2 linked regions of the Homo sapiens genome follow. The protein of the gene in region 1 interacts with the protein of each later gene in a biochemical or structural test. Each region holds a gene or a part of one and is shown in the gene's direction. Other genes may lie near its edges.

The links. Proteins that work in one complex are often made in the same cells at the same time.
Region 2: the proteins of ITIH4 (region 1) and KLK1 form a complex in vitro, tested with the Homo sapiens proteins (one study listed by BioGRID).

Annotation. Positions count from the first base shown.
Region 1 is NC_000003.12:52,827,659-52,834,627, reverse strand, and holds the start of ITIH4 (inter-alpha-trypsin inhibitor heavy chain H4 isoform 1 precursor), read left to right. Parts: upstream 1-3,955; 5' UTR 3,956-3,985; coding exon 3,986-4,075; intron 4,076-5,348; coding exon 5,349-5,509; intron 5,510-6,969. Other genes in the region: MUSTN1 (musculoskeletal embryonic nuclear protein 1), read left to right, coding at 879-1,011, 1,198-1,304; STIMATE-MUSTN1 (TMEM110-MUSTN1 fusion protein), read left to right, coding at 879-1,011, 1,198-1,304. UniProt on the Homo sapiens protein: Type II acute-phase protein (APP) involved in inflammatory responses to trauma. May also play a role in liver development or regeneration.
Region 2 is NC_000019.10:50,820,788-50,828,114, reverse strand, and holds the start of KLK1 (kallikrein-1 preproprotein), read left to right. Parts: upstream 1-4,327; 5' UTR 4,328-4,366; coding exon 4,367-4,412; intron 4,413-6,243; coding exon 6,244-6,403; intron 6,404-7,327. Other genes in the region: KLK15 (kallikrein-15 isoform 4 preproprotein), read left to right, coding at 300-453, 954-1,237, 1,358-1,494, 2,167-2,319.

The DNA of each region.
Region 1 (6,969 bases):
GCTCAGTGTGTAGAGCTTTGTGCATTTGTAGCTATGGGCCCGGCAGCCATGCACTCTGTGTGTGGCCACACACATAGGTCTGTCTGTCTCTGTGTATGGTATATGCATGAAGCTGTATGTGTGTGCACATGAGGCTGGAGGGACACAGCTGGATGCATCGCTGTACAGGGGTATAGTGTGTTGCTCTGAGGAGCCTGGCCCAGGCTGAGCGAGGAAATACCTGCACCTGCACCCAAGCACAGGCAGGTCTCAGACTCACAGGCGCCTGGGGTTGAGGGGTAGGGTAAACACCGAGCCTGGGTGTCCCCCACCCTGGAGGGACAGACCAGCCTGCCAAGAGAGAGGACTGTCCTTGCTGCCTGCTCTGTGGGTGGGTGGCCATTTTGGACTGTAATTCTGTGGGCATCTGGCCCTTCTACCCCATTTCCAGCCCCAAAGACACAAAGTAAATAGTGGCGCTTTTCTGGAAGGGGGCAATCCTTGAGGAACCGCTTGCCACCCAGTGAACAGGTTTTGGAACTAACCAAATTCCCTAGTATTGCCCAACCTCAGAGCTAGTCCCCTTCGCTGTTCCCCACTGTGCCCAGTCCTGAGCTTGACCAGGTAGCCAGACACGCCAGTGTGAGGCTGCAGCAGCCACTGCTCCCAAGAGCTCCCAGGCTATAGGGGAAAGGCACATGGGCAAGTCAGACCAAGACAGCTGGGAGACCTGCAGCAGGTGGAGTATAGTTGGGAAGGCTTTCTCTGGAAGAGGAGTAGAGCCTTGAATAGGCTTGGGTTTAATGAGCAGAGAAGAGGGGTCTTGGCCAAGGCACAGAGGTAGGTGTGCCTTTCTACCGAGGCTTCAGGTAGTAAGATGAGGCTCTTGGATCTCCAAGGCTGGTGCTCAGGAAGCCCCTATCAAGAAGAAGCGCCCCCCTGTGAAGGACGAGGACCTGAAGGGGGCCCGAGGAAACCTGACCAAGAACCAGGAAATCAAGTCCAAGACCTACCAGGTCATGCGAGAGTGTGGTGAGTGTCCTCATGCCATCTGGGGCTGGGGATGGGGGTGCAGGTGTGTGTCAGTGGTGGGGGGAGGTGGTCAAGGATCCTTTTCTGAGAATCCAGTATTCCTGGGTTCAAGAAAGGTGCTCCCATCGTAAGGGATCTTCCCTCCCAGGAAGCTAGGCTGGCCCCTGACTTTACCTCCTCCCACAGAGCAAGCTGGCTCGGCCGCCCCGTCGGTGTTCAGCCGCACCCGCACAGGTACCGAGACTGTCTTTGAGAAGCCCAAAGCCGGACCCACCAAGAGTGTCTTCGGCTGAGAAGTGTGCGCCACTCCCCTTGCTGCCCGAATGCTCGGAAACAGGAGCCTTTCCCAGGAACTCTTTTTTATGCCAGAACGCTTCCTCTCCCCTGCTGTCTCTGGGGCTGCCACCCTCCCCCACAGTCCAGGCCCTTCAGCCAAGGGCTCTGCACCAGCACCTTGGAAGCACCAATAAAGAGGATGCCCACGTGGCCCCAGCAATCAGAAGGTGTTGGTTGGTCCCTGGCTATGGCCACTATTGAGAGGGAGGACAGGGTGGGAACATGGAACATGTCCGTTTAAGAGGATCCCAGGGGATAGCACAGGTGCTATTATGGGCACTGCCACATGCTGCCTTGGACATGGAGACTCAGTGCTGACCTGTGACTTCAGACTTTTCTGAGCCTCAGTTTCCCCTTTTATACTACAGGGGAGTTGAGCTGGAGTCTATTCCATAAAGCAGGCCATGATGACACTGCTCAGAGTGAAGTGGGTGGGGTCTCAGGGACCACCTCTCCTCCTGCCTTCCACAGAAGCTGCTGAGAAGCCTCTGAGGACCTGCAGGCTCTGCAGCACCTAGGGACCTCAAAAACCCCTCTCCCTGCACTGCACTAGGGACCTCAAAACCCCTCTCCCTGCACTGCACTAGGGACCTCAAAACCCCTCTCCCTGCACTGCACTAGGGACCTCAAAACCCCTCTCCCTCCCTACACTTTTGTTCACACTGCCTCCTCCCGGCTTTTGTCCCCTCCAAGTCAGAGCCAGATTGAGATTCCTCTCTGGCAGTCAGTTTCCTGAGCTACCGTCTCTTCCAAACAGCAGGGGTAAGACTCCCACATTCTGCTCCAACCATGCTGTCTGGGGCATGGAACACCAGATTCTCAGCCTGCATGACCCTTCTCTCTCCAGTCCTCTGTCCCCTGTGTGCCTGGAAGTGCCAGGTTCAAAAGACCCATAGAGGCCTGTCCCGTTGTGATGGCAAGACCATGACCATGGACAGGCTGACAGTGGCTCTTTTCGGAGCTGGACTGGCAGAGCCTGGGCTTGTGGTGCCTGGCTCGGGGCTGATGCCTGCTGGGGATGCCTTCCTGTCCCAGGAGGTTCTGGCTGCCCAGAACGTTTCCCACAGTCCCGGCCAGCCTGGCCACCTTATATAGCCCTGAGTCCGGGCTGGGCCTGTGCTCTCTGCCCCAAGGGAGCAGCCCTGCTGTGAGGAAGGGCCCAGTCCTACTTGCTGGACTCCATGGGGAGACTCTTCCCCCAGACACTGAAAGGAGCGTGTTCCCCTGTGTAATCCCAATCGTATCCAGAGCCAAAAGGGTGAGCAGTGGAGACGTGCGCAGAGATGAGGCTTCTGGCCAGTCATGCTAAGGAAGGGGAACGTCTTCCTTGCAGCTGTAGAAATAGCTCCAGTCTATGGCACCTTTGCCCCAGGCCTGCCGCCACCTCTAATGGAGACAGGACTGGTGGAGAAACCCTCCCCAGCCTCTGGAAGCCACTGGCTGCCCCAAGGCCCCCGATAGGTTCCCAAGGCAGCTGGCCCCCTCAGGGCTGGTGTCACGGAGCCGCCGTCCTTCCCTGATCCAGGACTTGGCATCTGGCCACACTTTTATGACTCATCTTTACCCATCTGTGGCCACAGACTCAGGAGCTGGCTTCCCCAGAGCCACCAGGGAACACGAGCCCCAGCGGTGCCCAGAGCGCATAATATGTACTCACTCGATCCCACTTTACAAGGAGCAGAGCGCTTCAACTTTAGCAAGGCCGGGACCCACCCCAGGCCTTTGGGCAGCGCTCCCCTGGGTCTGGGCTGTGGCAGCATCACACTGCTCATGACAACAGCATTCTGCCCTCTCTCAACCAGCGATTCCTGGGCTCCCTCTGCTCCACCAAATGACTCCCCAGTCACCCCTCAGGAGCTGCTGGCACTGTCAGGTCTGTCTTCTGTTCCATGCTCTTCTGTCAATAAACTCCCCGCATGGAGACCTCTGTGCCACAGGATGTGGCAGGTTTATGACTCAGTTGTATTGCCATTCTTGTTTTGGGGGCCTTGCTGGGGTTGAACCTAAAGCCCTGGCTAGATTAATGGCACCCAAACAGCAACCTGGGACCCCAGGAGAGAGAAGGAGGCGCCCCGTGCCCAGCACCTCTCACTTCAGAAATACGGCGTATCTATCCTGACTCTAGATCTGCCCCACACAGACACCTCCCAGAGTCACTCCATGCCTTTGGGCCCTCCCATCAGCCAGACACACTTACCTGGTGGCCAAGCCCCCTTCTTCCGGGAAGCCGCTAGGGTAGCCCTGTAGCCCTAGTCTTCCCCACCATCCCCCGCTGTTTCTCCCCGGGCTGGACTTAGGGAGAGCAGACTGACATCTTCACTGTCAATTCCCTCCCAGCCCTGTGGAGCTTGGTGGAATGCCTGGTGTGAAGGGTCCTGGTGAAGGTTTCGCACTTTTCAGAAGGGGCATGTACCCCCACTCCAAACTGAGCCTACCTTTCTTTGGTATACATTCCTGCCCCCAGCCAAGGTCCATGGGACGTTCGTCATTTGCTTATCTGAGGTCACTGTGGTTTTTGGCTTGTAGATCCCAATTTCCCAGAACCTGCCCCCATGTGGGTGGGGCAGCAAACAAGTTACTAATCCATTCCCCACTTGCTGTCGAGTTCAGAAGCCTCCTGGCAGACACTGGAGCCACGATGAAGCCCCCAAGGCCTGTCCGTACCTGCAGCAAAGTTCTCGTCCTGCTTTCACTGCTGGCCATCCACCAGACTACTACTGCCGAAAAGGTAGCCAGTGTCCATGGGTGTGGCGTGAGCTGGGGGATGAGAGAACGCCTGGGAAGTGGGGAAGAGCCTCCGCATGTGCCAGCGTGTCAGCACAAGTGCGTGTGCATCCCTGTGTGTGCAAAAAAATGGTGCAGACCTCCCGCCAGGCACTACCCCAAGGGCCTTACTGGTATTCTCCCACCTAATAGAGGGGATGATCCAATCATTTCCATTTTCCAAATGAGGAAATACAGTTTTACAAGCCTGGCTCTACCGCCTTTTAGTAAGTGACCTCAGGAGAATGATTTATGCTGACTATGTCTCAATTTCCTCATCTGTAAAACAGGGTAATACTAGAACCTATTCAGAGGGTGGCGGTTGTGAAAACCAAACCCATTGTATCTATAAAGTGCTTAGGACAGTGCTTGTTGTGAAAACCAAACCCATTGTATCTATGAAGTGCTTAGGACAGTGCTTGTCGCAGAGCAAATACCCAAGCACATAAACAAGCCACTTGGCACCTCTGTGCCAAACTGCATTCAGGCAGCCGCATGCAGCCGAGCAGAGTTGGTGCAGTGCGCATGAGCATGTCACACACAAGCAGGTAAGAGGTGCCCGTGTGCCCCTCCTCGGGGGACACAGACCTCAAGGCAAATGGCACCTGCTAGGGGAGTGCCCTGCGGAAGTGGGGATGAGTTGGGGAGGGTCCACTGCGGAGCAGAGAGGAAGATTCCCAACTCTCAGAGACCAGACTCTAGTCTACCTCCGAATTCTCCCAGCTCTGAGGGCTTCCTTCTAGGAGACTGGTGGGAGCTTCCCTGTTGCCACAGAGGCCAAAGTCTCCAGAAATCAAAGGACCTGGTCACTGCCCTTTTTCTGGGCAAAGCTAAGCCAGCATGCAAAGCTCCCTGACCCCACCAGGTCTCTCACCCCTGCCCAAAGGCTGAGTGTGATGCCCCTCCCAGACACTGGCCCTGGCTTCACCAGCTCCACCCCCTGCATGCTTGTTCTTCTCCAAGGGGTGCTCTGGGCCCCTATAGATCAAGAAGGACGTGGCCCCTGCCCTGTGGTGCTGTAGGGTGGGGAATGAAGCACACTGCTATCTCTTACCTGAGACAAATGTTCACATATGAGATGCCTCACTGGGTTCAGCCTGAGGCCTGGTCAGTGGCTCAGTCAGATTGGGAGCCAGGGTTTGGTCTAGAGCCAGAGTCAGGGCCAACTCTTGAAGAGCGTCACCCCGAGCTGAGGTGGCATTGAAACCCTGCAACCCCCTTCTTCTTTGCTGGTCCAGAATGGCATCGACATCTACAGCCTCACCGTGGACTCCAGGGTCTCATCCCGATTTGCCCACACGGTCGTCACCAGCCGAGTGGTCAATAGGGCCAATACTGTGCAGGAGGCCACCTTCCAGATGGAGCTGCCCAAGAAAGCCTTCATCACCAACTTCTCCATGTAGGTGCCTTCCCACCCTCCTCCCCTCTCCACACCCCCCAGTGCTATGACTCCATCGCTCTGTGCCAGCAAACCCTCTTCTTGAAGTAAGGCATGCCAGGGTGTACATCTTCAGGAGTACACCCTGCACCTGGGGCCACACAGGAACAGGGGCTTGCCAAAGGACTTATTCTCAAAGATGCCCCCGTCCTTCCCTCCATCCAGCCATTCATCATCCCTAAGTGCTGTCCAGGTGTTAGGCAGAGAACCACAGAATCTTTGTGACTTTGCCTTTGAGGAGCACAGACTTGAGGCCTCCTGAGGCCAGACCAGGCAAGAGGGAGTCACCAAAATGCACATTCCAGCTCAAAGTACAGAAAACCTTCTAGACCCTTGGCTTCCTCACAGTGGAGAGTGGCTTGAGGAGGATTCTCCTAGGTCTGCCCCAGCTGGGATCCTGCAGAGGACATTTTTGCTCAGGCTGCGTGAGAGATGCCTGAGGTTTCTCTGAATTCTATGAGCCAAGGATGGTCCTCACTTTGTCCTCTGCCACCCTCCCCTACCCTTCCCAACTCAGTTTCCAATGTTTACTAAATGCACCAGGATGCCGCCTGTCCCTTGCTGCCAGGAAAAGCTGTGATTTAGGACAAGGGCAAGACTCTTCCCAGAAACAGGGCGATGGTGGGGCAGAGAGGGAGTGTCTCATGTGGGGTCCCACACTGTGGCCTCTGGAAAACTGCAGTGGGGGCTAGTCTCCTCCCTCAGGCGCCAAGCATCCCCCACTCCACCGCAGCCTCTACTTTTCCTAACCCAGAGCCCGGGCCTATGCTGCCCAGCTTGCAGTGCAAGCCCCACGGGCTGTGTCAGCCTTCGACATGGGTGCCAGGGTCAGCAGTTGCCAGGTCCAGGCCCGTGGCATCTGCTGAGAGCCCAAGACTGTCACTTGCCTTCTCTAGACCCAGAACCTGTTGCTGCATGAGTTAGGGGAGCAGAGAGCAGGTTCCCTGCTCCCTGACCTGGCCAGGAGCCCCAGCTGGCCATCTGGAGAGATGAAGCACTGCCTACCCAGGGGGAGGAGTGCCACTGCCCACTCACCAGCCCCATCCCGGGCTAGAGTTAAATTATAACCAGGAAGGTCAGGCAGGAGGGACGCGTAGTCCTGACATCCTGGCTGCTCCCCCTCCTGCCCACTGCCACACACTACCACATGAAGTTGACCAGGCACATCCCTACACACCCCACAAGGAGGCTCTGAAAAAGTCGTTTTCCTCCCTGAGAAATGGCCTGGGCCATTCTTTCTCAGCCCCCAAAGGATGGCTGCTAGGAGTGTGTCCACACACCCAGGAGTCCCGTCCACCAGTTGTCCAAAACCTCCTTCCAGATATGCCAGCCTCCCTATAGGGTGCCTGCCTCTTGTGGGAGGGAGCGGGGAGACTGCTGTAGGGGGAAAGTGCTCAGAGCCTCCAGCCCTACGTCTGCTT
Region 2 (7,327 bases), on another chromosome or scaffold:
AATTAGCCAGGTGTGGTGGCGGGCACCTCAGCTACTCGGGAGGCTGAGGCAGGAGGATCACTTGAACCCAGGAGGCGGAAGTTGCAGTGAGCTGAGATCATGCCACTGCACTCCAGCCTGGGCAAAAGAGTGAGACTCCGTCTCAAAAACAACAACAACAACAAACAAAAACAGGGCAGGGTGTCTTGAGAAGTTAGGGGAAAGGCATAGGCATATAGTAGTTAGGGCAGGGTGCAAGGAAGGTGTAGGAGGCAATGTAAACGTCCCTGTCCTCAGGCATCCTCTACCCCTTCTCTTAGCAGCCCAGGATGGTGACAAGTTGCTGGAAGGTGACGAGTGTGCACCCCACTCCCAGCCATGGCAAGTGGCTCTCTACGAGCGTGGACGCTTTAACTGTGGCGCTTCCCTCATCTCCCCACACTGGGTGCTGTCTGCGGCCCACTGCCAAAGCCGGTATGAAGGCAGGGGCTCAGGGTCCTGAGGGAGCCTGGTTCGGGGGGAAGAGCTCCTAGATTTGGGGGAAGACGGAGGCAGACGCCAGAACTCCTGGGTTCTGAAAGACGAGGAGGCCGGATGTCAAGCCCCTGGGTTAGGAAGGAGTGTGTGTTTCAAAGCCTTCGATCTCTGAAGGAGGAAGGAGAAGACTAGTTCCAGCTTTTGAGCCTCAGTTCTAGGGATGTGAGAATCCTGGATTCGGGGACAGACCAGGAGGGGGCTGGGAGTAGTTGGAGGGGATCGAGTTCTAGGAGTGTGCCTGACTTCAGACTCGTTGGTCCTTGAGGAGCAGGGGCTGGAACCATTGGCTTCAGGGTCTTGGGAAAAGGTAATGGGATGTCGAGATTTCTAAAGGGTCGGGAGACCTCGGGTTGCCCACTCTTTGATCTTTCTGTCCTCTACTTGCGGGTAACCACTGGCCCGCACTCCACTGGCGGGAAAACCACTCGCCCGCACAGCTTCATGAGAGTGCGCCTGGGAGAGCACAACCTGCGCAAGCGCGATGGCCCAGAGCAACTACGGACCACGTCTCGGGTCATTCCACACCCGCGCTACGAAGCGCGCAGCCACCGCAACGACATCATGTTGCTGCGCCTAGTCCAGCCCGCACGCCTGAACCCCCAGGTGCGCCCCGCGGTGCTACCCACGCGTTGCCCCCACCCGGGGGAGGCCTGTGTGGTGTCTGGCTGGGGCCTGGTGTCCCACAACGAGCCTGGGACCGCTGGGAGCCCCCGGTCACAAGGTGCGTGAAAGGATGGAGCTGGATGCGAGGCCTCAAGGAATCCTATGCTCCAGGGCTCTTGGGCGGAGGGGACAAGGGCCGGAATTTATGGATCTGCTCCAAGTCCACTGTCTTCCCCAGTGAGTCTCCCAGATACGTTGCATTGTGCCAACATCAGCATTATCTCGGACACATCTTGTGACAAGAGCTACCCAGGGCGCCTGACAAACACCATGGTGTGTGCAGGCGCGGAGGGCAGAGGCGCAGAATCCTGTGAGGTCAGAGCCTAGAGGGGCCATCAGGCGGAAGAAGAGGGATGGGGACAGGTGTGGGAGTCCGGATGGGGTTGGATTTTCTTTGCTTTGGGCCAGAGAAGATGCTAGGGTTAGGCTTGGAGATGGAGTAGGAAGAGAAGTTAGAATAGGGGTGAGGTTGGAGTTGGGGTTATAGGTGGGGATTGCGTTGTTTGAGGTGGATAATGTGATAGTTAGTTTGAGATGGCATGGGTTGGGGTTGAGAATGGGAATGGTTTGGTTTGATTCTGGGTGGGAAATACGTCAGGGTTGAATTGGGATGAGGTAGATTTTGTTTGGAATGCAGAAGACATGAAGATTGAGATTGGATTTTGAGATGGGCATGGGTTTGATTTGATTTTGAATGGTGAGGATGTGGGCTGAGTTGGATTTAACTTAGTACAGTTGCACTGGAGTTGCATGGGGGTGAGATTGGATATAGGTTGGGTGAGTTGTATTGAGCTGTGTTGAATTGGGGTTGGGGTTGGGGTTGGGTTGGCTCTGTTTGGGATAAACTGGGCTGTATTGAGTTGAGTTGGGTTGGGGTTCCCTGGGATGGGGATGGATTGGGTTTGGGGTGAGATTGCAAATGGTGATTAGGATGAGGATGAATCCAGGAGGTTTCACTCAACCTGAGACCCCCTCTTTTCCCCACAGGGTGACTCTGGGGGACCCCTGGTCTGTGGGGGCATCCTGCAGGGCATTGTGTCCTGGGGTGACGTCCCTTGTGACAACACCACCAAGCCTGGTGTCTATACCAAAGTCTGCCACTACTTGGAGTGGATCAGGGAAACCATGAAGAGGAACTGACTATTCTAGCCTATCTCCTGTGCCCCTGACTGAGCAGAAGCCCCCACAGCTGGCCAGCAGCCCCGCCTGACATGGAACAGAACGGAGCCATCCCCCAAGACCCTGTCCAAGGCCCAGATGTTAGCCAAGGACTTGTCCCACCTGAGGACAAAGCTGGCGCTCAAGGTCACCTGTTTAATGCCAAGATAACAAAGCGCTGATCCAAGTTGCTCTGTAGGAATTTCTGTGACTTTTTTCTGGGGTCAAAGAGAAACCCCGAGACACTGTACACTGTTCCTTTTCACCCACCACCCCGATCCCTAGGTGAGGAGAAGCGGCTTGAAGCAGGGCTCCATTCATTCAACACACATGACCACCCGTGTGATCTTGAACAAGAGGCCCAATCTCACTTCGCCTTGGTTTCCTTATCTGTAAAATGAGACCATCTTATTGCTGACTTCAAAGGGCTGTTGTGAGGATTAAATGAGATGATTCGTCTGAACTGATTAAAATCGTGTCTGGCACTGAGTAAATACCCTCTATCTCTGGATCCCAGTTAAAGGACCTAACAGACACTAGATTACCAAGAATGGCTTTTTCTTTAAGGTTTAGTTCTGGGCCGGGCATGGTGGCTCACACCTGTAATCCCAGCACTTTGGGAGGCCAAGGCGGGCGGCTCACTTGAGGTCAGGAGTGCAAGACCAGCCTGGCCAACATGGTGAAACCCCATCTCTACTAAAAATACTAAAAAAATTTAGCCGGGCGTGGTGGCACACGACTGTAATCCTAGCTACTTGGGAGGGTGATGTGGGAGGATCGCTTGAACTTAGGAGGCAGGAGTTGCAGTGAGCCGAGATCGCGCCACTGCACTCCAGCCTGGTGACAGAGCAAGACTCCATCTCAGAAAAAAAAAAAAAAAAAAAAAGATTTAGTTCTGGGCTTCCTGGTAGCCATGGCAAAAAGGCAAATACTGTCCTTTCCTTAGCCAGGTCCCTGATATACAGCAGAGGCTGGAACTCTGAGCTGCTTTGATTTTACCAAAAAGCCAAGACAACCTGTTGGAAGCCTATGGGTTTACCATTGAGGCTGCAGGAATCTAGTTCCTAATTATCTTCAGAGACCACAAAATGTGATGTTCAAGGTCGCTGAATGTTGAAGTACATGAACCTGGCTCGTGAGACCTAAATATTGTACTGGTGGTGGGGGGGAAGGGTCATTGGAATCTGTGGTTAGCCTGATCTTGACCTGGGAGGGAAGGTTGTCCAGATCTCTGGGACTTTGGAGGACAGGACGTTGAGCACCCATAACTGGGAGCAAGAAGTGGGAGGCTCATTGAGACCCCAGCATTGTTTGGGAGGGACACTGGATTTTGTAATGCTAAAGAACTTACCCTGGGAGACCCCTGAAACTTCACATTCCTGGATCTGGAGGCACTAGGAATGTGGTGATGTGTACCCCAAAATTTTATTATGAAAGGAACAGTAGCTTTGGGGACCTAGGTCCTGGGTCTGGGAGTGCAAGAACCAGGGCATTCTGAAGGCCAAGGCTTATATTTCAGGGGGAACTGGCAGCTGAGATGCTAGTATCTTGGCTCCGAGTGGTGCAGGGAATCAGAGCCCTAACTGCTGGTGTTTGAGGGCACCAGGTCTGGGGGTGCAGGGCCTTAATTGAGACTGAGGTATATGGGGCTTTGTACCAGGGGTCACTGATTCCTCCGTCTTCCTGTTTCTGCTTCCCCTCAGTCCCCCCTTGCCTCACTGGCTGCTCCCCAGAGCAAAGCCCCAGAGCCACAGGCCCTGCCCCACCTGGCTTCAACCCCAGGAATGCGTCCAGCGTGATCCAGGGCCTGCAGAACAGGTGCTGGTTCTCCCTCCCCGTCTACAGCTCTGGGGATCGGAGGGGGGGGGGGCAATTGTCCAGCCCCCAGGCAACAGGGGAAGGGCCTTGGCCAACATCTGGGTGCCAGCAGGGCAGGGGTGGGGCTCTGAGGGGATAAGGGCTTTTAAAAGCCTCCCCAGGGAGGTTCCCCAGTTCCTCCACCTGCTGGCCCCTGGACACCTCTGTCACCATGTGGTTCCTGGTTCTGTGCCTCGCCCTGTCCCTGGGGGGGACTGGTGAGACAGTGGGGGGATGTGGGAGGGGGAACGGGCCCTGATTCTCTTGCTGGCCTCACATCCCCCCCCGATAAGACCTTCCCCTCCAACACCCCACCCTCATCCCTCTGGCCCACAGTCTATCCTAGTCCGGGGTGCCCCGGCTCTTATCTATCTTGCGCGGCCCCACCCTAAACTTCCACCCCCGCTCCTCCATGTTGTCATAGTGCTCACTCCCACACCAGATTCCTGCTCCTCCCAGGAAGCCTCAGTACTTTCTCCTCTTCCCTAGCCAACGCCCTGTCCCACCGCTTTACCAAAGGGGCAGATTCTGGGCCATCTCTGTCTCTCTCTGGAGGACCCCAACCCTCCCATGGGCTTCCCCCACCCCACAGGACTCTGATCATCCCCTCCTGCCCCCTAGTTCCCTGCGGCCACCTATTTGGCTCCTGAGTCTACAAATCCCACCACACTCCAGTGACTTTTTCCATCCAGCTGTCCGCTCTCAACTGTGTCCTCCAGACCCTGACATCTGGTCTCCCCAGTCCTTCCAGGGTCCCCCAAATTTCACCAGAAAACCCTGCTTCCCAAACTGGCATGTGGGATCCCCCATCTGGTATGGGGGGGGGTCTGCAAATGTCCCTTCCCACCCAGCACCCCCAGCTCTCCCAGGAAAAACACCACACCCTCCCACCACATGCTCCTTTCCTTGGGGAAGTTCCATCCCGCCCCAGGCCCCAGCCCTTCTCTGCCTGAATTGTTCCTACACAGCTCTGGTTTTCTGGAACCCCACCCCAAGGATCCTGAATGCCTTCTCAGCCAGCGCTTCTGCCCTGGCCTCCCCCAAGTCAGTATGTGATTCTACAACCTCACGTCAAGTGGGTCCTGCATTGCATTCCCACAGCTGCTTGGCGCCTGTTCTCACCACTTCTCCAATCCTCTTCCTAGGATTGCCTCCAAGAGGACCCCATATCCTTCCAGTACCCTCAGACCATGAACCCCATCCCCATGAGAAACGAAGATCCCATCCTTCACCCTGTCCGAGAAGGACTGCCACTCACGCCTCCCTCCTCCTGAGCCCCGTCCCAGTCCTGACCGCAACTGTGTTCTCAGGGCCCCAACCTCCCCTCAGATTGCCATTCCTGGTTCACAGGAAGGACCCCAAAACCTCTCGGAAGCCCACCTCTAGCCTTAACCATAGCCCTTTCTTTTACCCTTTAACCAGGAAGCCCTGAAATCTAACTGTCCCAGCCAAGCTGGCCCCTTCCAACCCCAATGTAGGGACCCCAAGTCACCCCCAAACTCTTCAGTCCAGATGCTCTTCTTTACCTCTCAGACCTGGTTCCCTAAAGCTGCATCCTTTCCTGAACCTCAAAAGCCCAACCCAGGTCCTGTTTCCCTAGCCTAGGAGCCCCTTAGCCCTCCAGATTCTTCCTCAGTGAGCCTCTGATCCTGTCCCACCCTTGGCGCCTTGATCCCTGGTTTCCAGAATCCCTTTCCACTCCCCTAACCCACCACCTCCCATCCCCCAGCCCCAGACCCCAAATGACCTGACGCCCAGATGCAGTGTCTGCTCCAGACACTGTCTCCTGTCTCCTACCCTGATCCCTGGAGGCTGCTCTACTGTCAGAGCACAAAATCTCCCCACCAGGTCCAGCCACCACTCCAAAAGCCCAGGGAACAGTCCAGAGTCCCACCCCTTCCCAACACCCCTTGCCCATGTCCCCAACCTCCAGCCCTGGTCCTCTACCCGCAATGTCCCTTCAGACCCACAGCCCAGCTCCCTCTCCTAGCCTTGTCCCTGGCCTCTCCTGCCAACCCTGCCCTTCCTGACCCAGCACCGCCTCTGCAGGTGCTGCGCCCCCGATTCAGTCCCGGATTGTGGGAGGCTGGGAGTGTGAGCAGCATTCCCAGCCCTGGCAGGCGGCTCTGTACCATTTCAGCACTTTCCAGTGTGGGGGCATCCTGGTGCACCGCCAGTGGGTGCTCACAGCTGCTCATTGCATCAGCGAGTGAGTAGGGGCCTGGGGTCTGGGAGGAGGGCATCTATGCTGCCACAGGATTGACAGGCCAGTGGCATTCCCCTTGGATAACCTCAGGCAAGACTGGGGGGCTGAGGCAGAGAGGAAGGCTCTGGCGCAGGTCGCCTGGCAGGGCAGAGCTGGGCTGGACACCCCTCTCCAAGGCTGCCTGGGTCTCTTGGGATCTGGTTCTGCTTGTGTCTCTGTGTGACTGTGTTCTGGTCTCTGTCTTCCTCTCTCTCCTCTGTCTCCTTGTCTCTGCATCTCCCCTGTCTCTGTCTGTCTCTGAGTCTCTCTGCGGCATCTCTGTCACTGTGTCTCACCCTCCATCTCTCTACCCATCTCTCTCTCTCTGGGTCTCTACCTCACCGCTCCCTCATCCCTACTAAACACACACCCAGATGGACCTAAGGGAGGCCCCAGAGTAAAGGAAGGGCTTTATCCCCAACTTGTGTGCCTGGGAGGGGGCGCCTCTCCCTCTGTCCAGCTCCCCGCCCCACAGGATATCCCTCCACTCTGGAGAGACACAGGGAAGGGCTGGTTTCAGCGGGAGCTGGGTGGGGCAACTGAGGGAGGAGGAAGGAGGAGGCGGGGCGAGAAACGCGCGGGAGGGTGCTGGGAAGGGAAGGGGGCCTCGACCTTGGACTTCAGGCCAGGCCACCTGCCCCTGGGGAGCCCGCACCACAGCCCCAGCTGCAGCTGAGCCGCTCTCAGGCCTCCCCTCCTCCCTACCTGCCCCCACCCTCCCCACCTGCCCCCACCCTCCCCCAGGGCCTCCCTCCCTTTTCTCTCCCACACTCGGTCACTCCTGCTTCCTCTCTGCCTCTGTTTCTAGTTCTCACTCTGACGTCCCGCGTCCTTTTTCATTTGTCTGCTTCTCGCTCCCTTCCGTGTTCTGTTCCCTCTTCCTCCCTC